7 linked regions of the Homo sapiens genome follow. The protein of the gene in region 4 purifies or fractionates together with the protein of the main gene of each other region. This does not show direct contact. Each region holds a gene or a part of one and is shown on either strand. Other genes may lie near its edges.

Region 1 (3,500 bases), on a different chromosome or scaffold from region 4:
TTTTTTCTTTTTTTGGTAGAGATGGGGTTTCGCCATGTTGCCCAAGCTGGTCTCAAACTTCTGAGTTCAGGCAGTCTGCCTGCCTCAGCCTCCTAAAGTGCTGGGATTACAGGCGTCGGCCACCACATTGGTACAATGAAATCGATTTTTGTTCCTAAATTCTAGCCTTGACCCAGGGGGATTTTCCCCTCATAGCCTAGGCAGTCATATATTGACTAGTTAATAATATTTTAGAAACAGTTAGTTTTACTAAAATTGTTATACAGTTTTGGAAATGGCATTTTAGGAGCTTCAATTTCTTTTTTTTTTTTTCCTCCCTATAGTTATGAGTTGCAGAAACGAATTGCTGAAATGGAAACTCAAAAGGAAAAAATTCATGAAGATACCAAAGAAATTAATGAGAAGAGCAATATACTATCAAATGAAATGAAAGCTAAGAATAAAGATGTAAAAGATACAGAAAAGTAATAATATTTTGGGAAGTACTAAAAGTATTTAGATAATTGTATTACATGTGTATTTATATATAAAGTTACTTCTAGCACATTGTGAGTGTAAGACATTTGCCAGCATATCAAGTGGTGGCCCCCTTAGTGAAAAAAAAAAACTTGCCTTGCATCCAGTTCCTTGTTACAGATGAAATTCCCTACTCTGAAGTCTTAGAACCGTGGGGATGCTACCCCCTAGTGGCGTAGCACAGTAACAAACAATAAGCATTTGGCTTCACAGTTTAATCTTTTAGTAGTCCACAAATCTGATAGAGGGATAGGATTTGGGTTTTTCTAGATAGATTTTTAAGGGTTTTATCATGTCCCTACTTGATGCCATTTTTCAATGACACTAGTATCTCTAATTATTTTTAAATAAAAAAATTTGTATAGTAAGTTTATTGTATAGTAACTTGTAAGTATATTCGTAAAAGGTAAAACCAAAATTTTACTCCTATGGTAAAATTTTTATATACCTAGACATTGTAGTCACTGGAAAATGTGTTATTTTCCCTCCAACTTAGAAAGGCAAAATAGCTGTCATAATCAAAAATACAGGTGCTTCTTCAACTATGGGGAGAGGGATCATCTTGGAATAAGGAGAGTTTTAGGATCCTGCCTTATTAAGAGCCTGGACATATTTATAGAGGAAGTGTTCCAGGTAGGAAATGTGGTTTTAAAATATGTGCACATTCAAAATAATGACTTACAATATACTTGCTTTGCTAGGAAACTGAATAAAATTACAAAATTTATTGAGGAGAATAAAGAAAAATTTACACAGCTAGATTTGGAAGATGTTCAAGTTAGAGAAAAGTTAAAACATGCCACGAGTAAAGCCAAAAAACTGGAGAAACAACTTCAAAAAGATAAAGAAAAGGTAGGTGTTAGAAAAAAATTCTTAAAATTTCACGTCTGAATATCATACCTAGTTTTCATGGATGTGTTTGCCCCTTATTGCCTAAGAGAATGAATTAGTATTCTAAATGTTGTTTTAAGGTTTGTCTCTGAACATGATTTTACCCCCTCAAGGGAAACCTTGCTTCTACTGACTTTATTTTGCAGGAGGTTTTTTGTTTGGTTTTGGAATTTTGCAGAGATGGGGTCTCAGTCTGTTGTCCAGGCTAGCGTGCAGTGGTATGATTATAGTCTTGAACTCCTGGGCTTAAGAAACCTACCTCAGCCTCCCAAAGTAACGTGGACTACAGGTGTGAGCCATTGCTCCTAGCTTGACTTTGAGTTTTAAAGTTTATATTACAATAATATGTTATTGGGAAAACATTTACCAAATCAGGAGTTCCATTTTGGTGTTAATTTTAATTTTCTTTTTCCTAAAGTAGTAGTTTTTAAAGATATTTAAGTTAGGTATTACAGACTTAAAAATATTGCCTGTCTTCTACAAAAACTAAGCTAACAGGATCAGAGCAGGATTTCCCAAGAATTACCAATGTTGGCCAGGCACAATGGCTTACACCTGTATTCCCAGTGCTTTGGGCGGCCAAAGTTGGAGAATTGCTTGATGCCAGGAGTTTAAGACCAGCCTGGGCAACATAGTAAGATCCCATCTCTACAGAAAATCCAAAATTAGCCAGGCTCAGTGGAACTTGCCTAAAAGTCCTAGCTAGTCAGGAGAGTGAGGCGGCAGGATGCCTTGAGTTCAAGATTCCAGTGAATAGTGATCAAGCCACTGCATCCAGCCTGGGTGACAAAGTGAGACTCTGTGTCTTAAAGAGAGATAGGAAAGCTCATAATTTGGAATCTCTTAAGCTGTGTTCATGTTCATAGCTCTGTCATATTTAAACAGATATGATACCTTAACCCCAGCCCCGCAAAAAAAAAGCTTTGTTCCATATGGTTACACAATAATTATAGATTAGGCTCTACTTTACGCTATAAGCATTTTCTAAATGTATTTGTTCACAAAATACTTTCTGCTTAGCACAGCTGATAAATACGTTGAGTCAGTGTTTAAGGAAGTGGCATTTTGGGAAATGTTGAACTTCACAGGTACTAGATAATCAGAGTAAACAAAATAACAAGGCTTTGGGGGTAACCCCAAAGACTTGACAGACTTAGCTAAGTGTAACTGTTACAGAGTGATTAGCCTTTAGGCATAGACTGCATGGATAAGTGATTATTATCAGAAGATGTTAATGGAGTAAAATATTAGCCCTACATGATGACTCTGGAAGAGTAAAGTTGTGAAAGATTTTAGGGTTGGGGAGATGGTAAAGATAATTTGTGGTAAGTTATGATATACCAGGAAGGATAGTTTAGAAAATTCCGTGTAGTCAGAGCATATTTATAGCTAAAGAAGAATAATTACAACCTGAAATCAGGAGAGAAGGATGACAGACCTGAGGCCCTGCCAGAGACAGTTTTCCTTCATAAGAGGTCAGGTGTTTGTAGAAGTAGTTTTACTATTAGATTGAGAGAATATAGAAATTACAGTGAATAGTCGGGAAAATACTTGTTAAAGCTAGCTAATTTAACTCTGATTATAAAGAAAAGAAGAACTAGAGGACCCTGAGAAATGCCTTTAAATATGTCAAATATTGATAGTATTGGGTAACATAAAGATGTATGCTCCTATAACTTGTTTTATAATCTCAGGTTGAAGAATTTAAAAGTATACCTGCCAAGAGTAACAATATCATTAATGAAACAACAACCAGAAACAATGCCCTCGAGAAGGAAAAAGAGAAAGAAGAAAAAAAATTAAAGGAAGTTATGGATAGCCTTAAACAGGAAACACAAGGGCTTCAGAAAGAAAAAGAAGTAAGTTTTTTTTTTTTATCAGTGTTTATTTTGGTGGCTTTTTTTTTTTTAACTTAAAGATTATTTTTTCAAAAATACTGAAACCTGAACTGGTAAGTTTGGACTTTTAATGTCCAACATTCCTAAAACTAGTCAACCTAGACTTAGATGACTATTCTTTTAATTCCTGCTGACATGTTTTTTAAAAAGTTTACTAAATGAGAGTTTGTAGTAGTAGCAGAAGGTGTGATGTCA
Region 2 (3,500 bases), on a different chromosome or scaffold from region 4:
CTCAGTCTCTCTGGTGGGAGAAGATGAGCGGAAGATGCTGAAGGAGATTGTAAAAGCTGCCAAGGCCCCTGTGAAGGCCAGGATACTTCCCCAAGGTGAGCAGGCACCCCTGTGGCAGTGCAGAATGGCTCGGTGGGCGGGGCAAGGACAGAGTGTAATGGCTGAGAGCAGGTACTTTGCAGTTCAGAGCCAGATTTGAATTCCAGCCCTGCTGCTTCCTTGCCGAGTGACCATGTGCAGGTTTCACCTCACCTCTCTGAGCTTGCCTCCTGTGTGTAGAAGGGAATTATGACAGAATTGTAAACACAGTGCCCCATTTAGGTGGAAATTGAGAAGAGAAGGTTGCTTGGGGCAAAATTCTCACTAAACTCCTCTTTCCCTTACTGTTGGTGGTGGGGAAGAGAGAGATCAGTACTCATTCTTTTTGGGTCCTTTCATTGATTTTGTTCCTCTGATCTGTGGGGGTCTTATAAAGCACATCCTCTTTAAAGTCTTTTTTTGTTTTGTTTTGTTCTTGAATTCCTAGGCTCAAGCAATCCACCCACCTTCTGCCTCCCAAAGTGCCGGGATTAACAGTAATGAGCCACCATGCCCAGCCTTAAAAATTTTTAAAGTTATAAAAATAATACATATTTAGCCTGAGCATGGTAGCTCTTGCCTATAACCCAGCACTTTGGGAGGCCAAGGCAGGAGGATTGCTAGAGGCCAGGAGTTCAAGACCAACCTGAGCAATATAGTGAGCTGCCTGTCTCTAAAAAAAAAAAATTAGCTGGGCATGGTGGTGTGTGCCTGTAGTCCCAGCTATTCAGAAGGCTGAGGCAGGAGATCTCTTAAATCCAGGAGGTTGAGGCTGCAGTGAGCTATGATTGTGCCACTGCACTGCAGCCTGGGCAAAAGTGCAAGACCCTGTCTCTAAAAAATGAAATGAAAAGTACGTATTTATTGTTGGAAATTAGTAAATAAAAAAAAATGTAATTCTGTGTCAAAGAGCTCACCACTGGTAGCATTTAGGTGTATGTCTTTTCAAACCATTTTTCCTTTCTTAAATGTCCCTTTTATTTTTTTCATTTTCATTGTCTTCATTTAATCAGCGACTAGTTATTGAGTCCTGCTGTGGGCCTAGTGCTATTGATTCTGTTCTAGGTGCTGGGGATACAGCAGGGAACAAAGCAGAGCTGTGGTTCTGGGAGAAAGAGACAATAAATAAGCTAACAGTAGATGTGATTGAGAACAGCAGGAGGAGACTGCCTCATTAAGCTGTTAAGGAAAGGCCTCTGCACAGCTGGCATTGGAGCTGAGTCCTGGGTGATCGGAATGAGGCAGCCATGAGAGGTCTGAGGGCAAAGTGCTGAGCTGAGAGAACAAGGGTGGAGGCTGTGAGGTAGGAACGAGCTTAGTGTGTGAGAACAAGAGAAAGGTCAGGAGGCTCAGGCGTGGTGAGCAGGGACACACAGAAGATCAGAGCGGTAGGCAGGGGCCACTCTGAGTCTGGGGGATATGAAGCAGAGAAGGCACACATTACAGACACCATTTCCTATGTCAGTAAATGCACAGCTAAATTATTTTCATCAGTTACACAGTATTAGTAGTCACCCTTATTTTATTTTATTTAATTTATTTTTGAGATGGAGTCTTGCTCTGTTGCCAGGCTGGAGTGCAGTGGTGCGATCTCGGCCCATTGCAACCTCTGCGTCCCGGGTTCAAGTGATCCTCCTGCCTCAGCCTCCCAAGTAGCTGGGACTACAGGTGCATGCCACCACGCCCAGCTAATTTTTATATTTTTAGTACAGGTGGGGTTTCACCATGTTGTCCAGGATGGTCTCGATCTCTTGACCTCGTGATCCACCCGCCTTGGCCTCCCAAAGTGCTGGGATTACAGGCTTGAGCCACTGCCTTATTTTGTTTAAGATAAGGTCTTGCTTTGTTGCCCAGGCTGGGGTACAGGGGTGCGATCATAGCTTACTGTTGCCTCGAACTCCTGGGTTCAAGCAGTTCTTCTCCTCAGCCTCCTGAGTAGGTGGGACTACAGGTGTGTGCCACCATGATGGCTAATTTTTTTTTTTTTTTTAGATGGAGTCTCGCTCTTTTGCCCAGGCTGGAGTGTAGTGGTGTCATCTTGGCTTACTGCAGCCTCCGCCTCGTGGGTTCAAGCAGTTCTCCTGCCTCAGCCTTCTGAGTAGTAGCTGGGATTACAGGCGTGTGCCCCCACACCCAGCTGATTTTTGTATTTTTAATAGAGACGGGGTTTCACAGCATTGGCCAAGCTGGTCTCAAACTCCTGACCTCAGGTGATCCACCTGCCTTGGCCTCCCAAAGCGTGGGATTACAGGCATGAGCCACTGTGCCTGGCTTTTTTTTTTTTTTTTTTTTTTTTTGTAGAGACAGAGTCTGGCCACGTTGCCCAGGCTGGCCTCAAATTCCTGGGCTCAAGCAATCCTCCCACCTCAATCTCCCAGAGTGCCGGGTTACAGGTGTGAGCCACCATGCCTGGCCTACCCTTATTTGTAAATCCTTTTTATTTTCTCCCATTGAGATGTCATCCTCAAATTCCGGGACAAGATTGAGAAAATGGAGAAAGATGTGTATGCAGTTCTGCAGCTAGAGGCGGAGGAAAAAGAGATGCAGCAGTCAGAAGCCCAGGTGAGGCTGCGAGGCGGGATCTTGTTCACAAGGCTGCTCAGTAAGCAAGCTGCTGCATCCCTGCTGGTGCTGCCCTTCTGAAATGTTTCTCCCATCAGAGCCCCAGGCATTTGCAGCCCGTGGCTTCCTGTGTTAGTAGATACGGGTTTCACGGCAGGCATCCTTTTGTTATCTCTACAGATCAATACAGCAAAGCGGCTCCTGGAGAAGGGGAAGGAGGCAGTGGTCCAAGAGCCCGAGAGGAGCTGGTTCCAGACCAAAGAAGAGAGGAAGAAGGAGAAAAGTAAGTCAGGGAGGTTCCGCAGAAATCTAAATACAGAATTACCCCACAGGACTCAGCAGTTCCATTTCCTAGTTCTATACTGTAAAGCAGCGGTCCCCAACCTTTCGGCACCAAGGACCAGTATCGTGGAAGACAATGTTTCCACATTTGGGGTGTGGGGGTTGCATTAGATTCTCATAAGGAGTGCACACCCTAGATCCCTCGCATGCGCACTTCACAATAGGGTTAGTGCTCTTATGAGAATCTAATGCTGCTGCTGATCTGACAGGAGGCCAAGCACAGGTGGCAATGCTTGGTTGCCCAATGCTCACGTCCTGCTGTGCAGCCTGGTTCCTAATACGCCATGGACTGGAACCGGTATGCAGCCTGGGGTTGGGGACCACTGTTGTAAAGGATGTAAACAGGGACTCAAACAGATACTTAGATGCCAGTGCTCTTTGAATTACTGTTCATAATAGCAAAAAGGTGGAAACAAACTATGTTCATCAACAAGTGAATGGATAAACAAAATTTGGGGTGTGTGTTTATATACACACAATGGAATATTATTCAGCCATGAAGTTCTGATACATGCCAT
Region 3 (3,500 bases), on a different chromosome or scaffold from region 4:
ATGCTGCATTATAGTAAATGGAAACTCTTTAAAAACATGCAATGTATTTAATTTCAATGTGAAAAATTTAAATAAATCAGCCCCAAAATTCCAATAAATACATTGATTCTTCTAGGTCAGAGAAGAGGAAATAGAGGAGTTAGATACCTTATTAAGCAATTTTTGTGAACTCTCCACTCCTGGAGGTGTAGAGAATAGTTATGGGAAAATAAACATCTTACTTCAAACTTATATCAGCCGAGGAGAAATGGACAGTTTCTCCCTTATATCAGATTCTGCATATGTTGCACAGGTAAGTATCTTATTCCCTTCCAGTTTTCTCTTCCTTGAATATATTTAGAGGACCAAGGTGTTAATTCATGCTGTGCTATGAATGCATTGCTTTGTGACATGCTACCAAACCACCATTTTACTTAGAACTGTTTCTGCTAATTTGTAAATATTTTATGTAATCTATGCTCATAAAACAGGACTGGGGATGAGATTTGGTGACTGATAGGGCTTTTTTTGGTGATGTTGATGTTTCTTACAAAGTTTTAAAATGATACCTGATTTTTTTCTACTTTAAATGATGAATTTCATTTCTTTTACTTATAAAGTAAAAGAATATAAAGTACTTATAAAGAGAAAAGTTAAAGAATATTGCAAGCATAAAGAAAAGATTGTGGAACTTTTTTAGATTTTTACCAAATATTAGAAATAATAATATTTTTAATCATTAAACAAGGCGTAGTAAACATATTTCCTACCATACGTTCAGTGTGATGTCTCTGGTTTTTACAAAAGTAATCTCTCCTCTCTACTGTTGAAACTTAAACATTGAGGACAGAAAGAAAATTATTCCCTAAACTACAGCTCATTTAATTTATAACTTTTAAAAAATACCATGGTATAAACTGTTCAAATATTTGTGTTTTTATATTCAAGCCCTTATGTGAAGTAAAGTAGGTTATATTTTACCCTATTTATCCTTCAAATGAAAGATTTCCCTTCTAGACATACTTTTTTAAAAAAATTATTTACCTGTCAAGGCTTTTTAATTTTATTTTATTGAGTACTTCCTTTTATAAATTAAGAAGAAATTAAAGCTTAATTTTATTTTAAATATGGAAATGATTCTGCTGTTATATTTGTAATTTTGTTCAAAGAAAGACTAAATATAGAAAAAGAATGTTTGTGTTAAATATATCATTATTAATAGCCATGAGTACTCAGGAGTCCTTTAAACATGGAATATTTACAAACACAAACCAAGACATATTGGTAAACATTTTGAATGCATGTAGTAATTTAATCAATGTAACCAAGATACCAGGTTATATAATTCATAAATTATATAAAGTTAATATAGATGTAGTGAAAATATTTATATATTCTTTAAACCCTATAGCTTCTATAGGAATAATTTTCTAATCTCCTTTGTTTTATCTGTTTTTCTGTAAAGTAATGTAATATTGTCATTTTATATTTTCTAATGATTTTATATTGAAATAGTTAATCATTTAAATAAAAGGTAAAGTTTTACTGGGTTCTGGATGAATAATCTGGCAACATTTCTGCTTGCTTCAAGATTATGAAGATATTATCAGAGACTGACATAAGAATTGCTTACAATGTAAAACTTTAATTCTCTTCATGATTGGTATCCAGGAAGTCAACTTCTGATTAAGGATATCTCAAAGCATCCCTGTTTTTTCTTAAACAGCCATTATGGATTTAGCATCCCTGAATGCATCAGATAAATTATACTTTATTACATTTTAAGTTTAAGCTATCAGTAATTGAACAACTACTCTCTCAACTCTGTAAAATGATATTTTCTTCTATATTTTTTAAACTTTCTCTCCTCAGCCCCTAAGGTAAACCTATAGCTCAAATATTCTAGGATTTTATTTAAAGGCCTATGCTTAACTTTTCTAGACTGTACATGTTATAGACTTATTATTTTGAACCAATTTATATCATTCTAGATTAACATGTCCTGTTTGTATCTTGTCATATGGAATTTCTCCTACTTCTTTTAGCATTGAGGGGATAACTGTAGATCCTGAAATATTAAAATGACATACTTTCAAAGGCAGGAAAATTAGCCTGATAGTTTTTTGTAAGAACAAGTGGGAATGAGGTAGGAAAACCTATTTGGTAGATACAGTAATCAAAATTTTATTTATTATTCTCTGGGCCTTATAAAGACCCATTCAGTCATTTTTAATGGATATCAGAACTGTCCTCATACTTCTATCTACCATTTTGTACTTTAATTTCTAATACTGAAACAAAATAGTCAAATTTATCAAAAGACAGCGCATATCTTATATAAAATGTGAAATGAAAGCCTTTAACTCATCTGTCATTTTTGACTTCATAATTTTAGGCTGGATTGTTTGTCTGCCATTTGAAATCTTTTCAGTTTTGTATCTCTTGTTTGGATTTTAACCAGACTGAACATTCTTTATTTTCAAATACAGATGTTACTGGATTTTGGAAGGTATAAGTTCATTTAAAAAACAATCTTTAATAAAACAATCTGCAAAGTTAATGATAGAGGAGTGGAGGCAAAATAAATGGGAGCTAGCTGTAGAAATGTGAAGAAAAAGACTACATTCATTATAACTTTCTATATGTCTATTAATAAAGTTATCCTCAGACCACTGAGTCTAGAATCTCAGTTATATTTGGAGTCCTTTAGTCCTGGCTTTGAGTAGATGCTCTGACACCAACTAGCAGTGTGACCTTGGTCAAATTTTTTACCTCTTTAAGCCCTAGTATATTCATCTATAAAATCATAATATTAATATCAATTAAATGCAATTTTTGTAAAAGTTAAATGAGGCAATATATGTAAAGCAAGTTAACACATTGTTTGGTTTATAGGAAGCCATTTGTATGGCCCTTTCATATGAGTAGCTACACTAATCAGTATTTCATTTGTCACCCTTCTCTCATTATTTTTTTTCCCTATCAGGATCCCAGTCTTCCTTAATCCTCTAAATAGCCTTGTAAATTTAATCATTCCACTATTCACCAAGAGGCGTCCTTGTCTCTTATAGTCAGATGCCTTAACAGCCTCCTAAATATTTTGCATGCCTTTTGTCTCTTCCTACTTCATTCCTGTTTAGAAGGTAGAGCTTTCTAAGAACTTGGAAATAAGGCTTCCCCTCTGAGAGTAAGCAAGTAGCATCCACATATAAAGGATAGGATTATTCTTATGTAGAAATAATAAGATAATTAGGATTATATGAGAAAAGATATTGCCCCACAATTCAAGGATGCAGCTTGACTTGCACTTCTTTTCAGACTGAGTTTGAATAATAGATTTATTGACAAATTTAAAAGCACATTGGGTATAACCACCAATCTCCTCCTATAATTTTTTAGAATGCAGCTAGAATTGTCCGTGCTCTTTTTGAAATTGCTCTGAGGAAACGTTGGCCTACCATGACCTACAGGCTCCTGAATCTTAGTAAAGTCATTGACAAGAGGCTTTGGGGTTGGGCTAG
Region 4 (4,272 bases):
GAACAAAAGTAAAAGTTAAATATTCTCAAGAAAGCACTAGCTGAGCTACACACACACACATACACGCACAACATACCTTTGTGGCATTCTTATAGCTGGGGGACTTAACTGGCTCTGCCCTCTGACTGCTTGCCAGACTTAGAAGAAACCGAGAAAAAGCAGGTAGAAAAATGTTTATGCTCTAATTGCGAGTGTGGTAGCTGGCGTCCCTCAAGTGGAATGTATATGGGCTTCAAGGCTTTTGACCAACTTCACTGGACTTTCTTAGGGTCTTACCTCTTTTATTCGCACTGTGGGTTCAGGTATATTTATAGTATAGTGCTCTGATTCTTGATCATCTCACACCTATTTTGAAGTATTAGCATGAACCACATACAAGAAAGTCAATAGCCAAACCTTTTCCATTCTTCCTACAGCTCTTGAAACTGGCAGCCTTGAGAACCACCCATTTCCCTTACTACCTCTCACCTAAGCCTTTCCTGGTGCACGATGTTAACTTTACACTATGTATATTACTATTTAATGTCGACACCGCTGTCTTTTCATTTCACATCTGTTATGACATTGTGGCTTTCGCCCTTTGCGGTCAGGGACCATAACTCTTTGACATACTGTGTTAACAGGGACTTACTCAGGAACAGCCATTTGGCTGTTCATGGGGTGTAAAATTCACTGCAGTTTTGAAGCTGAGAAAAGATAGCTTGAATCCTTTTGTAAGTTCTTTGGAAAATGGACAGATTCTTTTTTACTGATAACCTATATCATCACCAAAATGGACCTGTCTTATAATTGACTAGACCTGTTAATGAAATGTTACAGACTAATTTGAGAAATAATTATTGGGTGGGAGAAAAGGGCATTTACTAGAAAATCAAGTAAACTTTGTTATCCTCAGGTATTTAATTGGAAGAATTGAGCAAAAAATTTGTTAATGTTTAGATTGATTTATGTTCCTTTTTCTAATCACTGTTTCCTGCTAAAAAAAATAACTGTTTGGCAAACTTTCTGTAACTCTCTATCTTTTCCTGGTTTATGTCTGTTGTCCCAGGCATTCTGATTACATATCCCAATCACAATCCTTTTATATGTTAGTATCTAATGTGATGTGGAAGAATTTGTATGGTTTACTTGAAAATTGCCTATTGTTTATTAAATTCCGACAGCAAGACTCTTCTGCATAAATGTTTTTGGGTCTTAAGATCAGATTTCAAGCTGGTAGTACTTCATTTCCCCTTAAGGGAAAGGATGTGTAAGATATTTATAAATTCAAGCATGCTTAAGGAATTTATTTAAATGGCTGCTAATTCTACTGCATTAGAAGCATGCCATTGATATGTACTGAATTAAATTTAAGGATATATCATCTCAAAGTATATTCTAGTAATCTTTAATTAGTTAAAAGTATCTTTTAATATTGTTAAGTAAAACTCATTAATTGTAGAAATGCTTAGAGATGAGTTTAGGCTACCTACCGATTTTTAAATTAAAACTTAATTTTTTAATCACTATAAATAAATTAGTAAACCTTTTAAAATATAAAGTTTTCTTACAATCACTTTGCGTAATTGAATATCTCATTCTTACCTAGCTAATGCTTTGTGTCTCCTGTCTTTTTGTTTCTGTTTTGGCTTAGTTTATTTCATTGATCTCTAAGCTGTCTTGTGTGGAAGGGAGAAGCTGCATGACTTGCTAGAAGTTTTACATGTGATGGAATTTAACCTCAGTTTATGTCTCTCCCTGCACAGTCCCTTCAGTCTGAATATGTTCATTACTAAGGCCTTGCCACTCCAGTGAAAGCTGTTCTTCTCTTAGACACAATTTCTTCATCTGGACGAGCAGTGGAGAGGGAAAGCAACTTCTTGCTGGAAGAATATCTCTGCCTTCTTACCTTAAATTAAAAAGAGCACTAAGATAACACCTTCAAGAGACTTGAAAACAGAAAACTGGTTAATGACTACTATAAATGCACTGAAACTATGTTTATGGAGATTTCCATACTTTTAAAGACAGTTTTAATGTTGAATTTGGTATTTTGAAGGGTTATTTTTAATGTATTTTGGTAATACATTTATTATTATATTTACATGTACAGTGTTACATTATATATGTATTGTGAACTTTAAAAGACTATTTTGATAAATTTATAAATATATAAAATTATGTAAAAACTACACTATATTTTGATTTAGATTTTCCTGCTGTTTGCTACCAAAAATTTGTATTTTAAATCTGTTTAGTTTTAGTATGGTTTTGTCTCTAATGAATAAATAATTCCTTCTTATTAAGAAGAAGTAAGGGAGAAAGTTTTTAGAAAGTGATTTTTATGCTCGCACTATAAATATGGCAGGTCAGTTCATTCTTTTGGGAAGTCAGTTTAGTTACACTGAGTTTATCCAAGTTTATCTCTACCAAGAGTATAATGGCATGGGATGGCTTATTTAGGACAATTCCCTTTCCTATTGTTTTTGTTGCTGAGCCAATTTGAGTTAGTTTTGCATCCTGGGGGGCTTTAAAATACAGCATGCAGTGAAAGATCAGAATTCACTGAATATTTCTTCTGAGAGCATGGTTTCATGGTTTTTCTCTATGAAATGACTCAATATTCCAAATGTTTTTTTTTCCTTCCTCCTTTCAAAAGAGTTCTTAACCCAATTAGGATATCCTGCTTTGGGTATGAGGTTGTTGTTGCCTGTAATCACACATGGTTTGACATCAGTTTTAAATCAATGGAGAGAAAAAACTGAAAAAGATGCTGCTAAGTAGTTCTCTGTATTAAAGGAGATATTTTTAAAACAGGGTACAACCCCCTGCTGCACACGCTAGCATATCTGGAACCTACTATGAAAATGAAAGGACCCTTATAGGTACTCACAGCCCTTTCATGTAAGTATGATCTGATATTTAGGTCTTCAGAAGCCTGTAGGTTTCATTTCTATGAGGAATCGAGGAGCGTTACATCCTGATATCCTTCCAGGCTGCTTAAGAATGGACTGCTTCGACACTGAAAGTGCTAGTTAAATGGATTCATATGAAGTGCTTTACTCCCAACCATTGAGTTATTTATAATGTATTTATTAGGGGAGGGTACCTTGAGTCTATTATATATGCTTCATCAAAACATCTTGTTCATGTTTTATGTTTTTAAAAAAGGCATTTGAATGAATGTTTGACTCAGGTTTGTTAAATTAACCTTCAGTAACTGCAGTACCAAAAATTACACTCAACTGATGAAAAAAACGAATTGTATGATTTAGGAATCAAAAACTAAAATAAGTGGAATTATGTATCTTTTCTAAAGTTAAAAAAGTAAAATATTTTATTATGAGTTATTATAAAAATTGGTTAATTGTATAGGAAGATGACAGTATTTTTTTCAAGTTATCATAAAAAGTAATTCAGATGACATTTGAGAAGTAGGGGAAAGGGAATCATGTTGACAGTTTTAGTTCTGTGAACACTAATTTGTGTGAAGCTATTAAAATGATTGTAAAGTTGACTACTGTAAATTTCCCATAATTATGTGTGTATATGTGTCATATGTATGTACATGTATATGTCTAAAAATTACTTTACACATGTGCCTACATAGACACACCAAGAAGTGGATGTATATAATATAGAAAGTATATAGCAAAGTAATTTTACTCTGATAATAAAAATTGTTTGACATGTATTTTGTTATGAATAGTTTATCTTCCAAAAGATATTTTGCTCTATTTTAAAGTGTAGAAGAATACACTGCTAATAAATAATAAAAGTTTTATTCAATTTACTTATTTTTTGGTGTTTATAATTTGAATTTTTGAGTTATCAATGTACTGAAGTCTCTTTATAATTTTATTTTTGGTTCAGTGTGGTCAGTGCCTTGAGTGTTTCAAGATCTCTATTCTGGATTTTAGTTTAGCTTTTATTGACTTTCTAGGTTGTGGCCATTGCCTGAAATACATGACAGTGAGCTCACAGAAACCTTATACTTTGAATTTCACAAAAATCATATAATGTTAGGTTCTTGCTTGCTTTCCCTTTATTTTTTTTACTGTCAATAAAATACTGATCCTGATCAGTGTTTTGGGTCCTGCTTAGTCATTTATGACTACTGATGACTATTGTGTGATTGATCACCAGTTCCTTTTGAAAAAGAATGCCATTTTTCCTAAATGAGAAATTATAGAAATCAGTTAGAAGAAACCTCACACCTGTTGGATCTATGCCCTGAAAAGTCAGTTTGGGAGGAAGAAGCTACACTATTTATTGGAGATATTTTATATAGTA
Region 5 (3,500 bases), about 76 Mb from region 4:
GTTGGTTTTCTTGGGAGAATCTCAAGATTTGAAAATCATTGTAGAACTTTTTGAGGCTTTTCATTAAACATTTAAAAATTCTTGTCTCACTTCAGATAATGTTCAGATATGACAACAAGGTCTTACAGGAATTTTTTAAGTCTTCATAAATTCTTTTTGAGAGTAGTCACACCCATTTTTGTAATAGCAGGAAGGCATCTTGGCTGGGCACAGTGGCTTGTGCCTGTAATCCCAACACTTTGGGAGGCTCAGGCAGGAGGATTGCTTGAGGTCAGGAGTTCAAGACTAGCCTGACTAATATAGTGAGACCCCATCTTTATTTAAAAATAATAATAAATTTTTAAAAATTAAAAGAAAAGCATCTTGTATAGACCTTTTTTTGTACGTAAGCTTTTTTCCACTCTTATTCTTTTTTAGTGACAAAACATAAAGGTACTGAGAAAAGAGAATCCCCTTCACCAGCACCGAAGCCTAGAAAAGTAGAGTTATCTGAATCGGGTAAGTTTGTTGTTTTTTTTTGTGATTTTGGTTTGTTTGTTTTTGTTTTTCTTAAAGCTGATTTTGATTTTTTGCACATTTGGTCATCCCCTTCTGCTTGAAGATTAAGTATAGGGTAAGAGCTAAGACTCTGAAGGCAGACAGACTTGGGTGGAATCCCCCATTCCAGAATTTAACTGTTTCTGTTTTAATTAACTTATCTGAGCCTTTCTTCTTTCATCTCCGAAATAGGGACAGTAGAGGTTTTTGACAGTTAACTGTATCTGCTTGTAAAATGCTTGGCACCAGCCTGACCTGTAGTAAATGCCTAAATAAATTTTATTATATTTGGTGAAGATAGTCTAAATCAGCCTGTGAATTGGCATTTTAAACTCTTTTTAAAAAAAATATATAGTAGTTGTATTTTTGATCCAACCAAATGAAGGTTTGAGAGACTATTTTCCTATTCAAATTGCAAATTTTCTATATGCTTAACTAAAGAAACACTTTCTAAATGCATCCATCTTTCAGAAGAAGATAAAGGTGGCAAAATGGCTGCAGCAGATTCTGTGCAGCAGAGACGCCAATACAGACGACAAAACCAGCAGTCTTCATCTGGTATGGATGGTGATGAAAGTTTTTTTTCTACCTGTATTTCCTATTAAAAAATACTTGGTATATAAACATCTGTGTGTGCAGCATGAGTACTTACTTGCCTACATAGAAATCTGTCTGAGGAGGCAGGATTGTTTCTTTTTTTGGTTTTAAGTCCTTTTGCAAAATTTAATTTTCTGTTACATTGTTATAAAAGTAATAGGTCCCTAGGATACAATAGTGAAACAGAAAACAGAAGTATAAAATTGGAAACGTATCATTCTTTTTCCAACCTCCTAAAGCTTTTATTCAGAAATTTTCTGTGCATATAGAAAAAGGAAAAGAAAAAACCCCACAGAAGCTCAACTGTAGATATGTTGCCTCACTTTTTAACTTAACAGTATATTTAGAACATCTTTCCCTATTAAAAATCTAGACTGGGCGCAGTGGCTCACACCTGTAGTCCCAGCACTTTGGGAGGCCGAGGTGAGCAGGCCGAGATCAGGAGTTCAAGACCATCCTGGCCAATAGGGCGAAACCCCATCTCTACGAAAAATACAAAAATTAACCGGGCATAGTGGCGCACACCTGTAATCCCAGTTACTTGGGAGGCCCAGGCAGGAGAATCCCTTGAACCCAGGAGGCAGAGGTTGCAGTGAGTGAGCTGAGATCGCGCCACTGCACTCCAGCCTGGGAGCCTGGGCAACAGAGCAAGGCTTTGTTTCCACAAAAAAAATAATAATAATCTACCCTATTATTTTACTATTTGCATTTTTTATTGTAAGAATATACCAGGCTGGGTATGGTGGCTTAACCTGTAACCCCAACACTTTGGGAGGCTGAGGTAGATGGATCACTTGAGGTCAGGAGTTCGAGACCAGCCTGGCCAACATGGCAAAACCTTGTCTCAACTAAAAATACAAAGATTAGTTAGGCATGATGGTGCAGACCTGTAATCCCAGCTACTCAGGAGGCACAAGCGGTCTTTCTGCCTTGGCCTCCCAAATGCTGGGGTTAAAGGGGTGAGCCACCGTGCCCAGCTCAAACTTCTTAGAGTATGCCATCTTGATTGGATTACACTGTGGAAATTATTTCTATGTCTTATTTAAATAATATGCTTGGCTTTGAAATCATTGATCATATATTGATAATGATTCTGTTCAGAACTGATGGCCTGTATACATGCTTGCTTACCCTAGTGAACACTCCATCCACCTAGATTTCAGAAAACTTGGACAGATTCAAGCACAAACCTAATGTAATATTTTTTTAATTTTGTAATTATAGACTCTGGCTCCTCCTCCTCCTCAGAAGATGAACGACCCAAGAGATCCCATGTGAAGAATGGTGAGGTTGGCAGGCGGCGGAGACATTCCCCTTCCCGGAGTGCTTCTCCATCACCACGAAAGCGCCAAAAAGAGACTTCCCCTCGGTAACATCTTTGCTTCAGTGATGTTCACTGATGTTCTGTAATTGTGATGAAATTTGATAACTTGGGATTATTTGAGAATTTGGTTAACTCCTTCAAGTATTTGGATGTGGTTGGATTTTTGTTTGCTTTTTAGGGTTTCTGTTTTGTTTTGTTTTTGCTTTATTGGTGGTTATTAATAATTAATTTAGAATTGGTAAATTTTAAACCACCATGTCATATATGTGTGCATGATTAGAAAAATAAACCAAACTATTATAGCAGTAACTCCTGAACATCTTTGAATATTTAAAAATGTCTCCATTAATGGTACTTAATCCACCCAAGTAAATAATTTAGTGAATGGAATTCTTGACATTTGTTTTTCTCCACTGCTCTCAGGATGCAGATGGGAAAGCGATGGCAATCGCCAGTGACTAAAAGGTTGGTTAGACACTACTTTGTAAATTAGGGTTACATGTCAAAAATTGTAGTGACTTAATTTCCTATTTAGGTGACCTCATCTCATTCTTAAATATATGGTGGCTGTGGCTGTGAATGTGCAGATCCTAAGTTGTTTTGGTTTGAGTATTTTTTTTAACACATTAGATTAATGATAGGGAGAATTATACATGAGCTATTTGGTTTAGACCCTTATTTGAACTTAGATTTTTAATATCTGGTTGTGCTCTTTTGTGATAATTTGCATCAACTTACATCAAGCAGCACGCAGATTTTTAACAGTATCTGGATACTTTTCCAGAGATAGGATTATTGCTCCTTAGATTTGGGGGGAGGGACTTTGTATTTGTGGTGACATTAGGGAGGGCAAGGAAAAACTAGGGAGAAACTTTAGAAATATTAAAAGTGAGAGGATCACGAGGTCAGGAGATCAAGACCATCCTGGCCAACATGGTGAAACCCCATTTCTACTAAAAATACAAAAATTAGCTGGGAGTGTTGGCGCGTGCCTGTAATCCCAGCTACTCGGAAGGCTGAGGCAGGAGAATCGCTTGAACCC
Region 6 (3,206 bases), on a different chromosome or scaffold from region 4:
TGGAGCCAGCACTGGCCCTGCCCGGGCCACCGGGCTTGCCACAGCCTCCTGCTCCTCTCTTCCTTCTGCCACTTGGCTCTTCCTCCCGTGGTTCTGCCCTGTCCCTACCCTCTGGGGCCTCCCTTTCCTCAGAGAGTTTCCCCTTCCCAAACCCAATTGCAGGAGTTACGGGCCCTTCTCCTCAGGTCTGGTATATTCTGGAAGTCGGAGTTCTGGGTCGGGTGGTTGGGGCTACAGATTCCTACCCCTGGACTATCCCACCTCCCTGTGCTCGGAGGCTTCTTTCTGGAGAGAGAGTCTGTGCTCGTGCTGTTGAGGGCACTGGTGTCTTCCCTGACCCCACCCCGCCTACCCCAAGGCTGGCTTCTCCTCCCCTTCGCTGTCCTGAGAGATGGGGGTTGGAGGACTGCCACCCTCCGCCCCCGCAGGCCAGGGGCCACGCCTGGCTGCTCCTGCTCCCTCCCGCTCTCCTCTCTGGGCTCAGGGGCTGTCTGCCAGGGTGGCTCTCCTGGGGTGGGGTGCCTCAGCCCCCCCGTGACGCCCGCCTCTGCCCTCTCCACAGACCTCACGTGGTGGGCAGTGGCGGCAACGACAAAGAAAAGGAAGAATTTCGGGAGGCCAAGCCCCGCTCCCTCCGCTTCACGTGGAGTATGAAGACCACGAGCTCCATGGAGCCCAACGAGATGATGCGGGAGATCCGCAAGGTGCTGGACGCGAACAGCTGCCAGAGCGAGCTGCATGAGAAGTACATGCTGCTGTGCATGCACGGCACGCCGGGCCACGAGGACTTCGTGCAGTGGGAGATGGAGGTGTGCAAACTGCCGCGGCTCTCTCTCAACGGGGTTCGATTTAAGCGGATATCGGGCACCTCCATGGCCTTCAAAAACATTGCCTCCAAAATAGCCAACGAGCTGAAGCTTTAACAGGCTGCCAGGAGCGGGGGCGGCGGGGGCGGGCCAGCTGGACGGGCTGCCGGCCGCTGCGCCGCCCCACCTGGGCGAGACTGCAGCGATGGATTGGTGTGTCTCCCCTGCTGGCACTTCTCCCCTCCCTGGCCCTTCTCAGTTTTCTCTTACATGTTTGTGGGGGGTGGGAGATTGTTCTCCAGCACCCCACATTCACCCCTGCCCAGAGATTCCCCCTTCTCCTCTCCCCTACTGGAGGCAAAGGAAGGGGAGGGTGGATGGGGGGGCAGGGCTCCCCCTCGGTACTGCGGTTGCACAGAGTATTTCGCCTAAACCAAGAAATTTTTTATTACCAAAAAGAAAAAAGAAAAAAAAAATCCCAGCGGCCACCTTTCCTCCCTGCCCCATTGGGACAGTCGAGACTGGATCTGTGGGGTTTCCCGGGAGGGTGGCTCAGGGCTGGAACACTCTCAGGCAAGAGTGGTGGAGCTCCCGTCAGGCCCTCCGCCAGGCCCACTGTGGGCTTCTCCCCTCTCCTCCCTCCTTCCCCTCCAAGCAAACCACCAGAGGTGGCCTTCCCCTGACCTCAGGCCCCTGGGCTGGAGGCCTGGGCGGTGGGGCAGGGGGCGGGGGTGCTGCGCAGCCCTGCAGTGGGTGGGGCTGGGGGCTGCTCCGGGGCTGCTGAGGCTGGAGGGCCGGCACAAGGCTCCGCCTCCCTCCACACTGTACCCTCTGCCCCTCCTCCCCAGAGCTGGGCATTTCCTTCCACAAGCTGCTGTGGGGACGTGTGTTCCCTCAAAGTCTGTGCCATCTTCTCCCACCCCTCCCGGGTAGAAGGAGGGGCTGACCCCAGGGCTGGGAGAGGGGAGGGGACTGGAGGGCAGACTGGCTTCTCGGTCCCCAGGGGGCCGCTTGGGCTGTTGGTCTCCAGAGCAGGGCCACTGGGCACTCTGTGATGGGGGAGCCTTTGTCTGAAAGCACAGCCCCCTCGCCCTTCCTCTCCCCATGGCTTCCCCTTCATTGGCATTAATCTGGGCACCAGCTCTCTCCATAGCAGTGACTTCCCTCACCACTCTCATCTCTCAGCCTTGCCTTTTCTTCCTGACACTGTCGCCCCCTCCTCTCAGGAGACACTGCCGAGGGCCACCTGGCAGAAGGCTGAGTTAGGCAGCAGGGCCGGGAGCGTCTGCCCTCCACAGGGTGGGGGACAGATAGGCTAAGCGACTCCCAGCTTGCTACCCTCAGTGGCCAGTGTGGGCGTGGGCGGTTTGGGGCGCTTGGCTGGTGGTGGCCACTGCATCCCTTAATTTATTTCTCTGCTGTTTCTGTTCTTGAGAAATTGGGGGTGGGAGTCCTACACAGAGGCTGCCCCTACCCTCACCTGAGTTGTACATTTTTTTGTGATGGGTTTTATTTTTTATTATTTTATTTTATTTTTTTTTTTTTTGATTTATGATGACTCCACCCCTCTTCATCACCCCCGCTCCCAGGCCAGGCTCAGCGATTAAGCCGAGCCCTTGCGTCCTAGGAAGGGGCCTTGCCAACCTCAGCCCTCCTGCCCCACACTCCTACTGCGGCTCAGACCAAGGGCTCCCCCTCCCTCCCTTCCCCCCTCCTGCCCTATGGAACAGCCCGGGTGCTCTGAGGGGGCTGGGAGGGCATGGCTTGGCTCCCAAAGGGGGTAGGGGCCCGGGGCACCCAGGCAAGGTGGCCCCTCCCCGTCTAGCCCCCTCCTCCCCAACCCTGCACTTAGTTTCTCCTCTGGATCAAACACGTAATAAAGAGAATGTTTGGAATCTGAGCTGCCTCCTCCTGTTTCTTCTCCCAGCCAGGCAGGGACCCAGTCTCCTGTGGGCAAGATGTGGCCTAGCCCACCTGCCTTGCAGGAGAGACTTGATTCCTGTCTGGGGCCAGTGCTGGGTGGGCCCAGCTCCCCACTTACCCACAGGGCACAGACAGGAAGCAAAGCCCAGGGCCCTTGCACCAAAAGGGAAAGAAAACTCAGTAAGCTTAGATTTTATTTTTTTTAATTTTTAAAAAATGTTGAAAAATAAATCCATGTCTGCATAAGTTCCCAACCCCCATTTCTCCAAGTTTCTGGAAGGTGGGCTTGGTGGGCACCCTCAGCTCCTTAGCATTTCCCAGCTGGCCCCTGAAGACAGAGCTTCTCTTCCAGCCTCTGCTGCTGTAAGGCCCCTCTGCCCACCTCCCCCCCTGCAGCCTCCCTCCCCACCTCACCCCAGACTTATTGCTAAAAGAAGGGAAAGAGGAATGAGAACAGCCAGCACACCCAACTGCCCT
Region 7 (3,500 bases), on a different chromosome or scaffold from region 4:
CAGCCCTGAAGAGGACACCATTCCATTATAGGATGCACTCACACACCCGCACTCATTCAGACTGGAACCACTGAGACGTTCCAAGTAACCTGACAGGTGCAGCTTTGGAATTGGGAAGAAACTGAAGTACCAGAGAAAACCCATGTAGACGTTAAAGGGAAAGTGCAAACTCCACAAAGACAGTGGCCCCAGCTGGGAATCATTTCTATTTTTCATCAATATTAATGAAATGACATTACTTGAGAACCTGCAGCATCCCTAAATGCACAGATGTTCCTATATTCTAAATGCTCTGATTGAAAATAGAAACATGGGCCAGACGCGGTGGCTCACGCCTGTAATCCCAGCACTTTGGGAGGCCGAGGTGGGCAGATCATGAGGTCAGGAGTTCAAGACCAGCCTAATGAACATGGTGAAACCCCATCTCTACTAAAATACAAAAAAATTAGCTGTGGCGTGTGCCTGTAATCCCAGCTACTTGGGAGGCTGAGGCAGGAGAATTGCTTGAACTCGGGGGATGAAGGTTGCGGTGAGCTGAGATCGCACATTGCACTCCAGCCTGGGCAACAGAGCGAGACTCCACCTCAAAAAAAAAAAAAGAAAATAGAAACGTGCTTAAACACATACATGTATTCACACACACACTCTAAGACTCCTCCCTACCTATCCCTGTCCCAGGAAAACAGCCCCCAGCCTCAGCACTGTCCAACCAGACATTCCCCCTCTCCTGGCTGCTGCTCCACCCCTCCAGATGGCTCACTCACCACCAGGGTACTCAGGCCCTCCCAAAGTAGTAGCCCCTGCATCACTCCCCTCTTCCTTAACCATCGCAAGGCCTAATCTTAGAGGGATCCACGCCCACCTTGGCACCATACCTCTCCAGTTAGCAGCTTCAGAAGAGTTGACTTCCCTGCTCCATTGGGCCCTACCAGAGCCACTCGTGTGTCAAGGTCAATTCCAAATTCTAGATTATTGTAGATGCAAGGCTGAGGTGGGGATGAGAGAGATGTGGACACAAGGCTAGAATACAGATCTGCTATGACCAGCAGACCAAGCCCGCTGAATTCCCAGTCACCAAGAGAGGAGGAAGGGAGAGTAGCGGGAGGAAGCACTCATAGCAGACCCCGCCTCGCCCACTGCCTCCGCCCACCAACCCAGCTGAGTAGTCTTCTTTCCATATACACGAAGAAAGGCCCGCGAGCAGCCTTGGATGAGGCACCCCAGCTGCCACACCTGAAAATCCCCCAGAGCACGTGGGCTAGCAGGTGTGGTCAGCACAGAACAGGAGCAACTCCCATGAGCTGCCACTCACCCTAAGATACACCCCAGCCACCCATGCCCTGCCCTGAACTTACCCCATCTTTTGTATACTTGAAGCTCACATTTTGCACCATAATGACAGGTGGAGGGATCTTGCCACATGGTGGGAAATAAAATGACAGTGTCTAGGAAGAAAAGAGGGCATTTATCAAGTTGGCTCCTTTCTTATCCACCTCACCTTAGGCCACCCAACCCCACCCAATCACACCCCACCCAATCACACCCCACCTTATCGCTCACGACCCTCTCTGTCAGTCCTGATGCCATCATTTTCTGTAGCGTCTTCTCCTTGCTCTGGGCCTGCCGGGCCAGCTTGGCACTGCCATGACCAAACCTCGCAATGTAGTTCTAAAAAAGACCAAAGAGAGCTTGGAGTATGTGCAGGCGCTCAACAATTCATCTTCAATCCAGGGTAAAAATGTTGATCGTAACTTCTTCCCGACATCCTCCATCACTACCGCTTCTCGAAATGCCCTCATCCGAGCCCCCTGCTTCTTTCAGACAGGAGGCCATGAGCCTGACTCTGCAGTCTCCCTACCTTCATGTGTGCAATCTGATCTTGCTCCCAGTGAAACCTCTTCATCTGGTTCTCCTCCAGCTCTAGCCGCGTCTTCACGTACTGATCATAATTACCCTGCATGGAAATGTGCCAGGTAAGGCAGGCAGCTTTAACCTGGGTTTCAATCCTGGATTCTCACTCAGAGTTTAGGGGGATGAGGGATGGCACTAACTTGGCCCTGGCTCTAAGGCTGTGCAGTAAGAAGAGAGGACGTGCATTACAGAAGCATATCCTAACATCAAATCGGAGTCTTTTCAATTCTATGCCCCTCGCTCAGCCCAGCCAGGGCCAGGCTCCAGCGCAAATCCTTAGGTTAGCTAGAAAGACACCTGTGGCACTGGGAATAGTCCTGAAAATCACGGTCATACGGACGTCACGAGGCTCAGAGCCTTCCAATACCACCTCCTATTCCTTCCCCGTTCCCTAGAGGCTGAAGCCCCACAAAAGACTGCAAGAGCTGTCTCCAGAGGGGAAAACAGACCATTCAGATTTAGAAGCTGACAAACCCTGCATAAGTGGACTACCATGGTTTCTATCTGCAAACAAAAACTGGACTCAAGCTAAATATCCACCAGAAAGGGCCTAACAAGTTACAGGATAAACACATAACGAAATACTATGCAGTGACTGAAAAGATTGTGATTGATTTATATATACTCACATGGAAAGCAGTCCAAAATATACTAAATTTAAAAAAGCAACCTACAGAATGATTATTAAAATTGTAACTGTGGCCAGGTGCAGTGGCTCACACCTGTAATTCCAGCACTTTGGGAGGCTGAGGTGGGTGGATCACTTGAGGCCAGGAGTTTGACAGCAGCCTAGCCAACATGGCGAAACCCCGTCTCTACTAAAAATATAAAAATTAGCTGGGTATGGTGGCATGTGCCTGTGGTCTCAGCTACTTGGGAGGGTGAGGTGGGAGGATCGCTTGAACCTGGGAGGCAGAAGTTGCAGTGAGCCAATATCACGCCACTGGACTCCAGCCTGGGTGACAGAGACAGACCCCATCTCGAGAAAAAAGAGGCCGGGTGCGGTGGCTCACGCCTGTAATCCCAGCACTTTGGGAGGCCGAGGCAGGCGGATCATGAGGTCAAGAGAGGGAGACCATCCTGGCCAATATGGTGAACCCCATCTCTACTAAAAATACAAAAATTAGCTGGGTGTGGTGGCATGCGCCTGTAGTCCCAGCTACTCAGGAAGCCGAGGCAGGAGAGTCCCTTGAACCTGGGAGGTGGAGGTTGCAGTGAGCCCAGATCGCGCCACTGCACTCCAGCCTGGCGACGGAGCAAGACTCCAGCTCAAAAAAAAAAAAAAAAAAAAGCTGCAATTGTATAAAAAGAAAAAGATTACGTATACATGACATTTTCTACAAATGTGTGCAAGTATACATGAAGTTTCTGGAAGGCTATATTATAAACTAATACTCCTATGACTATGAATGAAGAGGACATCAATCGTTAGTTTCTTACATGCTTTTTGAAATATAAAATGAAAAGGCAAGGCACAACAGTGGGCTATTGAGATCCTGACCCCCATTCTCCTGTGGTCATGGGAGGTGGGGTAAATGTGTAGACTCCAGTGAAGCAGAATTAAGAAGGCATTCAAGAAGGCAGAGGGA

Evidence for each region.
Region 1: the proteins of CDC14A (region 4) and SMC4 purify together in Homo sapiens (affinity purification with mass spectrometry, with the first as the bait; one large-scale study listed by BioGRID). This does not show direct contact.
Region 2: the proteins of CDC14A (region 4) and DDX27 purify together in Homo sapiens (affinity purification with mass spectrometry, with the first as the bait; one large-scale study listed by BioGRID). This does not show direct contact.
Region 3: the proteins of CDC14A (region 4) and ASCC3 purify together in Homo sapiens (affinity purification with mass spectrometry, with the first as the bait; one large-scale study listed by BioGRID). This does not show direct contact.
Region 5: the proteins of CDC14A (region 4) and SRRM1 purify together in Homo sapiens (affinity purification with mass spectrometry, with the first as the bait; one large-scale study listed by BioGRID). This does not show direct contact.
Region 6: the proteins of CDC14A (region 4) and MARK2 purify together in Homo sapiens (affinity purification with mass spectrometry, with the first as the bait; one large-scale study listed by BioGRID). This does not show direct contact.
Region 7: the proteins of CDC14A (region 4) and ABCF2 purify together in Homo sapiens (affinity purification with mass spectrometry, with the first as the bait; one large-scale study listed by BioGRID). This does not show direct contact.

What each region holds. Positions count from the first base shown.
Region 1 is NC_000003.12:160,413,150-160,416,649, forward strand, and holds part of SMC4 (structural maintenance of chromosomes protein 4), read left to right. Parts: intron 1-323; coding exon 324-464; intron 465-1,217; coding exon 1,218-1,368; intron 1,369-3,101; coding exon 3,102-3,266; intron 3,267-3,500. UniProt on the Homo sapiens protein: Central component of the condensin complex, a complex required for conversion of interphase chromatin into mitotic-like condense chromosomes.
Region 2 is NC_000020.11:49,236,416-49,239,915, forward strand, and holds part of DDX27 (probable ATP-dependent RNA helicase DDX27), read left to right. Parts: coding exon 1-95; intron 96-2,533; coding exon 2,534-2,640; intron 2,641-2,820; coding exon 2,821-2,923; intron 2,924-3,500. UniProt on the Homo sapiens protein: Probable ATP-dependent RNA helicase. Component of the nucleolar ribosomal RNA (rRNA) processing machinery that regulates 3' end formation of ribosomal 47S rRNA.
Region 3 is NC_000006.12:100,647,330-100,650,829, reverse strand, and holds part of ASCC3 (activating signal cointegrator 1 complex subunit 3), read left to right. Parts: intron 1-115; coding exon 116-292; intron 293-3,378; coding exon 3,379-3,500. UniProt on the Homo sapiens protein: ATPase involved both in DNA repair and rescue of stalled ribosomes. 3'-5' DNA helicase involved in repair of alkylated DNA: promotes DNA unwinding to generate single-stranded substrate needed for ALKBH3, enabling ALKBH3 to process alkylated N3-methylcytosine (3mC) within double-stranded regions.
Region 4 is NC_000001.11:100,516,506-100,520,777, forward strand, and holds the end of CDC14A (dual specificity protein phosphatase CDC14A), read left to right. Parts: intron 1-1,745; coding exon 1,746-1,775; 3' UTR 1,776-3,772; downstream 3,773-4,272. UniProt on the Homo sapiens protein: Dual-specificity phosphatase. Required for centrosome separation and productive cytokinesis during cell division. Dephosphorylates SIRT2 around early anaphase.
Region 5 is NC_000001.11:24,660,302-24,663,801, forward strand, and holds part of SRRM1 (serine/arginine repetitive matrix protein 1), read left to right. Parts: intron 1-417; coding exon 418-498; intron 499-1,008; coding exon 1,009-1,095; intron 1,096-2,358; coding exon 2,359-2,503; intron 2,504-2,881; coding exon of another isoform or gene 2,882-2,923; intron 2,924-3,500. UniProt on the Homo sapiens protein: Part of pre- and post-splicing multiprotein mRNP complexes. As a component of the minor spliceosome, involved in the splicing of U12-type introns in pre-mRNAs. Involved in numerous pre-mRNA processing events.
Region 6 is NC_000011.10:63,908,315-63,911,520, forward strand, and holds the end of MARK2 (serine/threonine-protein kinase MARK2), read left to right. Parts: intron 1-562; coding exon 563-923; 3' UTR 924-2,706; downstream 2,707-3,206. UniProt on the Homo sapiens protein: Serine/threonine-protein kinase. Involved in cell polarity and microtubule dynamics regulation. Phosphorylates CRTC2/TORC2, DCX, HDAC7, KIF13B, MAP2, MAP4 and RAB11FIP2. Phosphorylates the microtubule-associated protein MAPT/TAU.
Region 7 is NC_000007.14:151,217,206-151,220,705, forward strand, and holds part of ABCF2 (ATP-binding cassette sub-family F member 2), read right to left. Parts: intron 1,955-3,500; coding exon 1,859-1,954; intron 1,669-1,858; coding exon 1,549-1,668; intron 1,446-1,548; coding exon 1,356-1,445; intron 987-1,355; coding exon 876-986; intron 1-875. Other genes in the region: ABCF2-H2BK1 (ABCF2-H2B protein), read right to left, coding at 876-986, 1,356-1,445, 1,549-1,668, 1,859-1,954.